Homo sapiens: one gene and its partners. The protein of the gene in region 2 interacts with the protein of the main gene of each other region in a biochemical or structural test. Each region holds a gene or a part of one and is shown on either strand. Other genes may lie near its edges.

The links.
Region 1: the proteins of ARL2 (region 2) and TBCD form a complex in vitro, tested with the Homo sapiens proteins (2 studies listed by BioGRID and IntAct).
Region 3: the proteins of ARL2 (region 2) and BSND interact in a biophysical measurement, tested with the Homo sapiens proteins (one study listed by IntAct).

The regions. Positions count from the first base shown.
Region 1 is NC_000017.11:82,749,769-82,753,514, reverse strand, and holds the start of TBCD (tubulin-specific chaperone D), read right to left. Parts: upstream 1,451-3,746; 5' UTR 1,322-1,450; coding exon 1,138-1,321; intron 1,024-1,137; exon of another isoform or gene 761-1,023; intron 1-760. Other genes in the region: FN3K (fructosamine-3-kinase), read right to left, coding at 2,760-3,098.
Region 2 is NC_000011.10:65,017,065-65,020,810, reverse strand, and holds part of ARL2 (ADP-ribosylation factor-like protein 2), read right to left. Parts: intron 2,448-3,746; coding exon 2,337-2,447; intron 2,307-2,336; exon of another isoform or gene 2,241-2,306; coding exon 2,078-2,240; intron 393-2,077; coding exon 312-392; intron 1-311. UniProt on the Homo sapiens protein: Small GTP-binding protein which cycles between an inactive GDP-bound and an active GTP-bound form, and the rate of cycling is regulated by guanine nucleotide exchange factors (GEF) and GTPase-activating proteins (GAP).
Region 3 is NC_000001.11:55,001,787-55,005,532, forward strand, and holds part of BSND (barttin), read left to right. Parts: intron 1-3,235; coding exon 3,236-3,330; intron 3,331-3,746.

The DNA of each region.
Region 1 (3,746 bases), on a different chromosome or scaffold from region 2:
ACTGCACTGCACTCCAGCCTGGGCAACAGAGCAAGACTTCGTATCAAAAAAAAAAAAAAAAAAAAAAGGAAGAAGCCATTGGGCTGTTACACCAGGAACAAAAAATCTGGCTTCACTGGTCCCTGGATGAGGGTCCCTCACCCTCAGAACAGTTCTGCACGAGAGGCATCGTTATCCGCCCCAGCTTACACCCGAAGAAACAGGCAATCAAGTATCAGGTCCAAGCGACAGGGCCAGAATTCACAGGCAGGAGGATCTGACGCCGAACCCGCACTCCTCCCACAAGGCCCCCCACCCTGCCTGACTCCTAAAATCAAAGCGCTGTCATTCTAAAATGAGGAAGGCCAAATAATGCAAAAGTTCTTCTTACTCAAAGGGTCTACAAAGATGATTTTACTGAATTACAAAACCCCATGTAACTACTTAGCTATGAGCTCCTAAGGACTTGTTTGGAAATAACCCATTATAGACAGCGGTAAAGGTGGGTCTGAACTCGGAGAATTTAGACTCATCGAATGGCCTCCACAGGGGTACCTACACCCCACCCCGCCTGCAGAGGCACGGACCCGGCCAGCCCGCTCTGTCCACGGCGTCCACGGAACGGACAGGCTGCTGCCCTCCCCACCCGAGGCGCGCTTTGTTTGCAGCAGGTTTGTTCCCTGCGTCCCCCTCTCTCATTCCCTATCTCCCTGTCCACACAACATTCACAGAAACCGCGCTCGGTGGAGGCAAGCCTGGGAGTCCACACTGCAGGGCTGACCAGCTGTCCGGAGGGGTCTGGCCCGAGTCTCCCCAGCCCAGGGACCTCCTCCAGTGACGGAGACGGGGGACGGAGGGCTTCTGCACCCCGCCTCCCGGGGAGGCCGCAGAGGCTTCACCCCGTGCGAGAGCAGGCGCTCCGCGGGCCACGGTCCCCCCAAGGGAGGCGCGCGTCTGCCCCGTGCACCTAACGCCGCGCCGGGGTGGCCCTCTCCCGCCTAGGAAGGCCGCGCCCCACCACGGCCCGCGGGACCGCGCACCGGCAGCCCTCGCAGAGCGGCCGGCGCCGCCGGGCTGCGGTCCCCGCCCGGTAAAGTGCACTCAGCGCGCCGAACCCGGGCCGGGGGAGGAAGCGGGCACGCGGCGCCGCCCACGCACCGCGGAACCGCTCCAGGGCCACCTCGCGCTCCGCGCCGCCGCCGTGCACCTCCCGCAGGCGGCCCAGCAGCGCCCGGGTCTCCGCGCTCTCGCCGAACGCTTCCAGCGCCGCGCCAAAGGCCAGTGTCTCGTCCTCCGCCTCCTCCTCGGGGCCGCCCGCGGCCGGTTCGTCGCTCAGGGCCATCTCGGCAGCCTGGGGACCGCGCCCCCGCCTCACGTGTTCGCAGATCCCACTCCGCTAGAGCGCGAAAGCCAGGGATGAAGGATGAGGGATGAAAAGGAGGCGCCCGCTAAGGCGGCAACCGACGCTGGCCCCGCCCCGCGACCTCCGACCCCACTCGCCGGCCTCGCTACGGAACGCGTCGGCCGCCAAAATACCGCGCGCGGGACGGCGCGTGCACTTGAGGACGCGAGCGGGCACGGGTCCCAAAGGCTCTGGAAGAGCGCGCCGTGGACCCCACAGGGCGCGAGCGGAGCCGGGACCGCTCAGCGGGGCCTGAGCACGCGGTGGGCGGGGCAGGACAGGAGGTGGGGCCTGAGACGCGGTGGGCCGGGCTGCGGGGTGAGGCCGCCGCCGGAGGACAGCGGGGCGGAGCCTGAGCAGGCGGTGTGCGGGGGGGCGGGGCTTCGGGATGGGGCCGGGGGCCGCCAGGGCGGGGCTTGAGCACGCGATAGGGGGCGGGGCTGCGCGCAACGGGGGCGGGGCCCGGGCACGCGTGGGTGGGAGGGGCAGGGCTTGCGGTGGGGCCGGAGACAGCGGGGCGGAGCCACAACACGCCGGGGGGCGGGGCGGGGGCGGGGCGGGGGCGGGTGGGACCGGGGGACCGCGGAGCGGGGCGGAGCCTCAGCATGCGTGGACGGGGAGGGGCGGGGCCTGAGCACGCAGTCGGGGGCGCGAGGCGAGCCCCGGGACCCACCCCTCAGAGCCAACCGCCCTGACACTTATTCGCGCCACGCTGGGACCCGCGCGGATCACACGGGCCCCGCGCCGAGTGGTGGCGCGCCCCAGAGCGGGAGCGGGAGCGGGGCCCGGAGGCCGCGGTGGGCGCTGCGCCGACTTTGGCCTTGGCTACCGGGTCCGCGTGCGTTTCCCCTGAATCGCCGCAAAAACGTCCGTGCACAGCTCGCCGTGCGTCTGGCCCTGAAAGCAGCCCCACGAGCGGAGGAACGAGGCGCAGGACGCCAGCCGAGACCCGCTGCGGGCTTTATTGGTCCCCAGGATCTGGGAGGGGTCGGGGGAAGGGGGACAGGGACAGGGGGGACGGGGACGGGGGACGGGGACGGGGGGACGGCGATGGGAGACGGGGATGGAGGATGGGGACGGGGGAACGGAGACGGGGACGGGGCAGGGGGGACGGGGACGGAGATGGGGGACGGGGATGGGGGGTCGGGGACAGGGGGATTGGTATGTGGACAGGGGGACAGGGGGACGGGGGACAGGGATGGAGGGACGGGGACGGGGGGACGGGGACAGGAGGATGGGGGGACGGGGGGATGGAGACGGAGGGACGGGGAGACGGGAACAGGGGGACAGGGACGGGGGCACAGGGACGGGGGACGGGGGGACAGGGACGGGGAGACGGAGACGGGGACGGGGACAGGGGAAGGGAGGGCAGGGGCCGCTACTTGAGCAGCCTTCGCATGGTGCCCAAGGAAGGGCTCCTGTACTCCCGCCCGAAGTGGTTCCAGTGGTTCAGGTAGTTAAACAGCTGGTAGAGCAGCAGCCGCTGGTCGAAGCCCGGAGCCTTGGGGATCTTCCGGTGGTAGGCGGTGAAGAAGGATCTGGGGAACCCCCCAAACATCAAGGCGATTGCCAGTTCAAACTCGGAATGGCCATAGAAGGAAGCCGGGTCGTAAATAATGGGCCCCACGTCGTCCTCAGCCACGTTTCCCGACCAGAGATCCCCGTGGAGCAACGCGGGGACAATCTCTAGGCCACAAAACAGATCCGGGATCTTCACCTACGAGAGCAACGGCTGCAGTTATCGCTGGCCTCTGGGAGCCCCGGTCTCATCACCTCGTTCTTGGAAATAAGGCAAAGCCCACTCGCGATCTGCTTCGGTGTCCAGCCCCAGCACTGCCTGCCAAGCCCAGAAATAGGGGCCACCTGACTTCAGGGGAGTCTAGCTTTGTCTAACTTAGGATTTCCTCCTAATTTAGGTCTAGAATCCCCACACAGTGGAGAACCTCTGAGGTTATAGTTTTAATCGACCCACAGAATAGGAACCAGTGTTGCGCTACCTTAGCAAACTCTGGCCACTTTTATTTCGCTACACATATATGTCTGCAGGTTTTGTTTGGTTTTGTTGTTTTTTTCTTTGAGAGGGAATCTTGCTCTGTCACCCAGGCTGGAGTGCAGTGGCGCCATCTCGGCTCACTGCAACCTCCGCCTCCCGGATTCAAGTGATTCTCCTGCCTCAGCCTACTGAGTAGCTGGGATTACAGGCACCCGCCACTACACCCGGCTAATTTTTGTATTTTTAGTAGAGATGGGGTTTCACCATATTGGCCAGTCTGGTCTTGAAATCCTGACCTCAGGTAAAATCTATCCACCTCGGCCTCCCAAAGTGCTAGGATTACAGGCTTGAGCCACCGTGCCCAGCCTAGTT
Region 2 (3,746 bases):
TGCAACCTCCACGTCCTGGGTTCAAGCGATTCTCCTGTCTCAGCCTCCTGAGTAGCTGGGCTTACAGGCGCACGCCACTGCACCCAGCTAATTTTTGTATTTTTAGTACAGACGGGGTTTCATCATGTTGGTCAGGCTGGTCTCGAACTCCTGACCTCAGGTGATCCACTCGCCTTGGCCTCCCAAAGTGCTGGTATTACAGGCGTGAGCCACTGCACCCAGCCTTTTTGGTTATTTTTAATAAATGCTTTTAAAATAAATAAATGTATGCCCCTTTCCCTCAGCGAGCCTGTCCCGGGGCCTGGACTCACCTCGCGGATGGCGTTAGAGGACAGTGCTCCAGGCAGGTCCTGCTTATTAGCAAAGATGAGGAGGGTTGCTCCGGCCAGGCGCTGGGGGAGAAAAGATAGAGGGGTGGGGTGGGGACTCAGAGGACAGCCTGACCCCTCCTCTAATGGCCCAGAGCATCTGGGGTGAAGGATCGACCTGGAAGATCAAGGTGAGGCCCCGTGGTGGTGGGAGAGGCCCAGGAGTGAGTTTGTGGACGTAGCCATCAAGGCTGGCCCACATGAATGGAGCAGCCCTGGGCCAGGGTTCTGGTTCCAGCCAACCACCACCCAGGGGACACCGCTGTCCCCATGCTCCAGCTTCCTCTTCCATGAACAGGGAGGGGTGTTGCATAAGATGATCCCTGAGCTCTCCGTGGTTCTAGACTGCTCCAATCTGATGACCAGACATGCACAGAGGATGTGAACTCTCCCTCTTCTGGGTTCACACAGCCCTTTAACCGTTCCACTCCCGACAGGCCTCACTGTCCACCTCTGATTCTAGTTGTTTCCACATATGTGTCTGTGATTGGGAGAGATGTGGGTGGACGGGTCTAACCCTTGGGCCTTGACCTGCCTTGACCAGCATTTGACGGCCCTGATCTCATCTGACCTGCTCCACCCACATAGGAGATGTGTGCGGTGTGCCCAGGACAGTCCCCACTCTGCCTGCAGAATCCCCCCTTTCACTCTCACAAGTGTCCTCATTTTCAACTAAATGCAATTTTGTAGCCTGAATCAAACATTGGAACACAAAAAGTATATTAGTGGAAAAACGTGAAATTCAAATAAAATCTGTAATTAAGATAATAGTAATTCACCAGTGTTGATTTATTAGTTTGGACAGGCCACGGTTAGGTAAGATGGGGAAGCAAGGTAAAGGGTATATGGGGGACCTCTGACCTCTGTACTATCTTTGCAAGTGTCCTTCTTTTTTTTTTTTGAGACGGAGTCTCACTCTGTTGCCCAGGCTGGAGTGCAGTGGCACAATCTCGGCTCACTGCAAGCTCCGCCTCCCAGGTTCACGCCATTTTCCTGCCTCAGCCTCCTGAGTAGCTGGGACTACAGGCGCCCGCCACCATGCCTGGCTAATTTTTTGTATTTTTAGTAGACACGGGGTTTCACCATGTTAGCCAGGACGGTCTCGATCTCCTGACCTCGTGATCCGCCCGCTTCAGCCTCCCAAAGTGCTGGGATTACAGGCGTGAGCCACCGCACCTGGCCCCTTCCTTTTTTTTTTTTTTTGAGACAGGGTCTTGCTCTGTCGCCCAGGAGGCTGGAGTGCAGTGGCACGATCACAGCTCACTGCAGCCTCAACCTCCTGGGCTCAACTGATCCTCCTGTCTGAGCCTCCAGAGTAGCTAGGACTATAGGTGCGTGCCACCACCCCCAGCTGAGGTCACACAGCAAAGAGTCAGACTCTTGAGCCAGGCTCCATGGCCTCTCGAAGCTTCATACTGGCCTTGGGTTATCCTCCCTAAAGCCCAGTGATGTGGGTGTCATCATCACCATTTCAAGGCATAGAAACTGATGCTCAGGGTAGTGACGTAGTAACACCACAGGGACGTTAACTCAATCTCAGTCCACAGCATGTGTCCTGCCTCTGGCACCATGGGCCTCCCATGGTGGGGGCCCAGAGAAGGAAGGGATCCTGCCTCTGGTTTCCCTCTGGGGCCACGGGCCCCTCTGGGCATCTGCTGAGAAGGCAGCCACACGTCCATACATGTACACAAAGGGTAGGAGCTGCCCACCTCCTCCACCAGCAGGCTCTGGAGCTCCCGCTGGCAGTCCTGCATGCGCTGGCGGTCTGCGCTGTCCACTACCCAGATGAGGCCATCGGTGCTCTCAAAGTAGTTCCGCCAGTAGGACCGCAGGGACTTCTGGCCACCCACATCCCAGATGTTCAGCTTGAATCTGGGCAAGGAGCGGGTGACAGGAGGGTCAGCTGGGCCCCTCTCCCACCTTCCCTGCCCTGCTCTGGGCTGGCCCTCCCATGGGGCCCCTGCTCACCCTCGGTGCTCCAGGGTCTTGATGTTGAAGCCCAGCGTTGGGGAGATGGTGTCGATGTCCTCCCCATTGAACTTCTTCAGGATGGTTGTCTTTCCAGCATTGTCCAGGCCACTGGGGCGCAGCAGGTTAAGGAGAAGTCCCTGTTCTCTGCCAGGTGGTGACATTGTTGCAGAGCCCCTTAGGGGACTCATTATTTCCCACCATGTATCAAACTGAGTTGAGCACATGCCTGACCATAATCGGCCCACAATAAATATGAAAGTATCAAATTATAAATATCATCTCTACTGACCAAAGGCTCCTTAATTTGTTGAACACCTACTATGTGCCAGACCCTCTTCTGGGTGCTAGAGGACAAAGCCCTGCCCTTAGGAAGCTTACACTCTAGCGGGAAGACAGTCAATAAAGTACAAACAAATGAGAAAAGAAGGCCCTGCCAGATCCCGGCTAGCGCCATCAACACAACAGAGAGGCTTTCCAAGAGGGCCATCGGAGGAGGCTCTTTCAGCTCAGGTGCCGGGGAAGGCCTCTCTGAGGTGTCTGGAGCTGAGACCCAAAATACAAGGAGCAAGCTTTTTGAAGAACTAAGGTAAGAACAAATATCTGGAGGCAGCCACCCTCATTTGTTTCTGGAATATTCCAGACCTGCTACTGCACAGTGCAAATTAATGGGTGTGCTTACCTGTGGAAGGAACCACCCTCCTCTATCTTCCCAACACTGCAGCTCAGTTGGGCATGGTGGGGTGGGCGGGTCCTGGACTCGACCACCTTTCCCTGCTCATCGGAGCTGGGGCAAATGACCTAGGCCCAGGAGAGGGGTGAGGAGGGCATTTCCCCTGAGGCCCAGCCTTAGCCCCTGGAACCTAGCCGCTGATGACCCCCTGCCCCCAAGCCATCATCCATGTTTCCTTCCCCTCTTGATCATTCCCACTGGCTGATGAGCTTGCCGTTCTTTCTCCCACCTTAAAAAGAGCAAATAGGCCGGGCGCGGTGGCTCACACCTGTAATCCCAGCACTTTGGGAGGCCAAGGTGGGTGGATCATCTGAGGTCAGGAGTTCGAAACCAGCCTGACCAACAAGGTGAAACCCCATCTCTACTAAAACTACAAAAATCAGCCAGGCGTGGTGGCGGGCCCCTATAGTCCCAGCTACTCGGGAGGCTGAGACAGGAGAATTGCTTGAACCCGGCAGGCAGAGGTTGCAATGAGCCGAGATCACACCACTGTACTCCAGCCTGGGCGACTCAGCGAGACCCCGTCTGATTAAAAAAAAAAAAAGAGCAAACAAAGCCCTTGATCTCTCTGCCCCATCTAGTTATTCATTTATATCTTTCCTTTTACAGGAAATCTCAAAATAGTTGTTTGTGCTCACCCCCATTTCTGCCTTCTTGCTCTTTCAAGAACACACTCC
Region 3 (3,746 bases), on a different chromosome or scaffold from region 2:
AGTTCACCAAGCAGAGAAGATGGGGAAAGACATTCCAGGCAGAAGAGTAGCATGATCAAAGCAATGTGGTAAAAGAATAAGGCAAGTGGGCCATTGTGGCTACGAGAGGCAGAGGGGAGGAAGGTAAAGGTAGCGAGGGAGTGGGGCTCAACTCTTCAGGGCCTGGGATGCCATGGTAAGGAATTTGGAGCTTGTCCTTTAGTTAATGGGACACGACCAGCTTTGCAGTTTGAGAAAGACATCCAGAAGAAGGAAGGTCTGGGGGCAGCCATACCAGTGGGGAGGCTTCTTCTCTGGTCTTGGTGAGAGCTGACAGTCATCTGGAATAATGCAGAATTCAAACACAAAGCTGTAGGAACTAAGGTGACATTTACAGTTCACTTCACATAGAGTACCCGTTGTGGCTAGGCATAGCACCAGCACTTCCACCCAGGTTATCTTATTGAATTTCTGAAGTAGACCTGGTCAGATTTGGTGGTCAGCTGGGCCTCAGGCATGAGAGAGGAGAAGGGATCAGGGCAAATCTAGTGGATGGGACAGTTGGAGGTGCTGAGCCCATTAGTGAAGATGGGGCAGGGGAGCTGTGAGCAGGGAAAGGAGTGGCAGGGAGAGCAGGGTCTCTGCCCACGCATCCCCCATTCCTCACTCCTGCCTGCTGTGCTGGAGACCAGGACCAGGGTCCTGACTGGTGGCCTCCCTCTCTCTGGAGATTGCTCAGTGTTCTGCCTAAACACAAATCTGACAGTGTACTCTCTTGCTGAGAGTCCTTCAGGACTCCCCATTGCATCTGGAGAAAGGCTAAGCTTCTTAGTTTGGTGTTCTGGTGGTCTCCATGGTCTGATATCCTCTCTCCAGCTTCAACTCTGCCTGTCCCTCCTCATCAAAAAACTTGCATTTTAAGATGCCCCATCCTTTCCTTCTCCAAGCTTTTCCTAAGGGTGGTGATGATGATATGATGGTGATAATGAGAGTGCAGTGGGGATAGTGAGGGTGAGAATGGTGATGGTGATGATGATGATGATGATGTTAGTGATGGTGCTGATAAGAATGATGATGGTAAAGATGGTGATTATGAGATGATGATGGTGAGGATGGTGATGGTGACAATGGTGATGATTATGGTGATTAGGAGATGGTGATGATGAGGATGGTGATGGTGAGAATGGTAATGGTGATAATGGTGATGATGATAATAGTGATAATGATGGTGAGGATGGTGATGGTGACAATGGTGATGATGATGATGATGATGATAGTGATGATGATGGTGACGGTGATGATGATGGTGACGGTGATGATGATGGTGCTGACTGGGCCATGAGGTAATGAGGCAGAGGAAGAGGCAGCTTCTAGGAAGTACAGTACTAGCTGGGAAGTACAAAGCATCCTTAACGGGGGTGGAAGAAGCCCAGGCCCCTGCCTTATTTCTTTCCTTTTCTTTTTTGTTTTTAAGAGACAGGAGCTCAGTCTGTCACCTAGGCTGGAGTGCAGAGGTGCAATCATAGCTCACTGCAGCCTCGAACTCCTGGGATCAACCAATCCTCCTGCCTCAGTCTCCCAAGTAGCTGGGATGACAGGCTCACACCACCACATCCAGCTAAATTTGTTATTTAATTTTTTTATTTTTTTTGTAGAGACAGCGTCTTTCTTCATTGCCCAGGAGCTCTGTTTTATTTCTGGACATCTAGAGAAAGCGCACTCCTCATAGGAGTACAAAGGCCCCCTCCATCCATCATTCCCTTCTCCCCATCAGAATGGAGCTTTCCTAGTGCAGACAAGTGTCTTCTACTCACTTTGCTCTATGGGAAGGGGAATAGGGAAGTGCTATTTATGAATCTGGTATAATACAGTGGGGTCTCAACAAATATTTATTGGAAAAATTTTCAGCCGAGGAGAGCAAGACTCAGAGAAGTCAGACAACTGAATCATCAATAGCATCAAGTTATGATTTACTGAGTAGTTACTATGTGCTGGGGACCATGCTGAGGGATTCCCTATATATGATCTCATGAAATTTTCACAGCAACCTCAGGAGACTGGCGTAACTAGCCCCATTTTAAAACTCATGGTAAAATACACGTAACATAAAAGTTAGTGTCTTAAACATATTTAAGTGTACAGTACAGCTAAGTACATTCACATTGTCATCCAACCAATTTCCAGAATGCTTTTTGTCTTGTAAAGCTAAAACTCTATACCCATTAAATCACAATTCCCCATTATCCCACTCTCTAGCCCCTGGCAACCATCTTTCTTCTTTCTGGCTCTATGGATTTGACTATTCCAGGTGCCTCAGAAAAGTAGAATCATACAGTATTTGTCTTTCTGCTCAGCATAATGTCCTCGAGGTTCAGTGATGTTGTAGCATGTGTCAGAAGTTCCATCCTTAAGGCTGAATAGTATTTCATCATATGGATAGACTATATTTTGTTTATCCATTCATTCATCAGTGGATACTTGGGTTGCATCTACCTCTTGGCTCTTGTGAATACTGCTGCTCTGAACATGGCTGTGCAAGTATCTCTTCGAGGGTAGCCCCGTTATACAGAGGAGCACAGAGAGACTGCGAAGAGAGATGACCTGCCTAGGGCCCACAGTGAGAATCTGGCAGAGGAGGGATCCTCACCCCATCTCCCAGATCCCACAGGCACAGCTCCTCTCCCTCACCCACTGCCTCCTTCATGATCTGCCTCCGACTGCACCACGCAGTGCCCACCTAGGGCTGGACTTGCAGAGACCTCTTGATTCCTGAAAGTTCAGGGACAGGGACTGGCGGGCATAACTTCTCTGTCACCCACTGCAGCCCATGTGGCAAAAACACATGACAATGACTTGCTTTCCACTCATTCACCAAATATGGATGAAGCACCTACTATGTGCCAGGCTTGTGCTGGGCACTGGACGAAGACCCCTGGGAAATGAAAAGATGTGAGCTCCTCAAGGACAGGGTTCTCTTTCACTCCTTGCTGCTCCTAGTGCCTGCGACAGTGCCTGCACACAGCAGATAATAAATGTTTGTAGAGTGAATGAAGAACCAGGAAGGGAGCAGGAGCACAGAGGTCCATCCTCCCGCTGGTGCTGTGCCCCAAGTAGGCCCCTCTCCTGTCAAGCAGGGAGGCCTCCGTGGTGCAGCCTGTCTCCCAGAGCTCATGGAGAGGTTTGCCAATTCCCTGAGGGGACAGTAGCCCCCCTACCCTGGTCAACTGCACAGAGGCTGTCTCTCCTTTGCTTGCAGATCACCTTCGTCCCTGCTGACTCTGACTTTCAAGGCATCCTCTCCCCAAAGGCCATGGGCCTGCTGGAGAATGGGCTTGCTGCCGAGATGAAGAGGTAGGTGCCAGGCCCTCTCGGGAGGGGAGGAGTAAGCCCCATAGGCCAGTCTCCCCTGACTGAGGAGAGTGAGAGGGAGGGCAGGAAGGCTGTTTGCCTTCTCACTTACTGAGAATGTATTAGAAATTATGGACTGTTTTCAACTCTCAATTCTGTGAGTTAGGCATTATTATTCCCATTGTACAGATGAGGAAACTGAGGCCCAGGGACTTTGTCTTGTCAGGGACGAGACAGTGTTTCGGTGAATACAAGATCTCCATGAAACAAATCATACAATGAAATAAATGTACTGTGAGAAATACAGTGCAATAGAGTCACAGGAGTAAGTGCTTCTACTACTGACAAACAAGAGGCATGGTGGTGGCCAAGGCTCAGCCTCAGGGCTTTGCCGCCTACTCGCTGCCTGACTTCCAGCA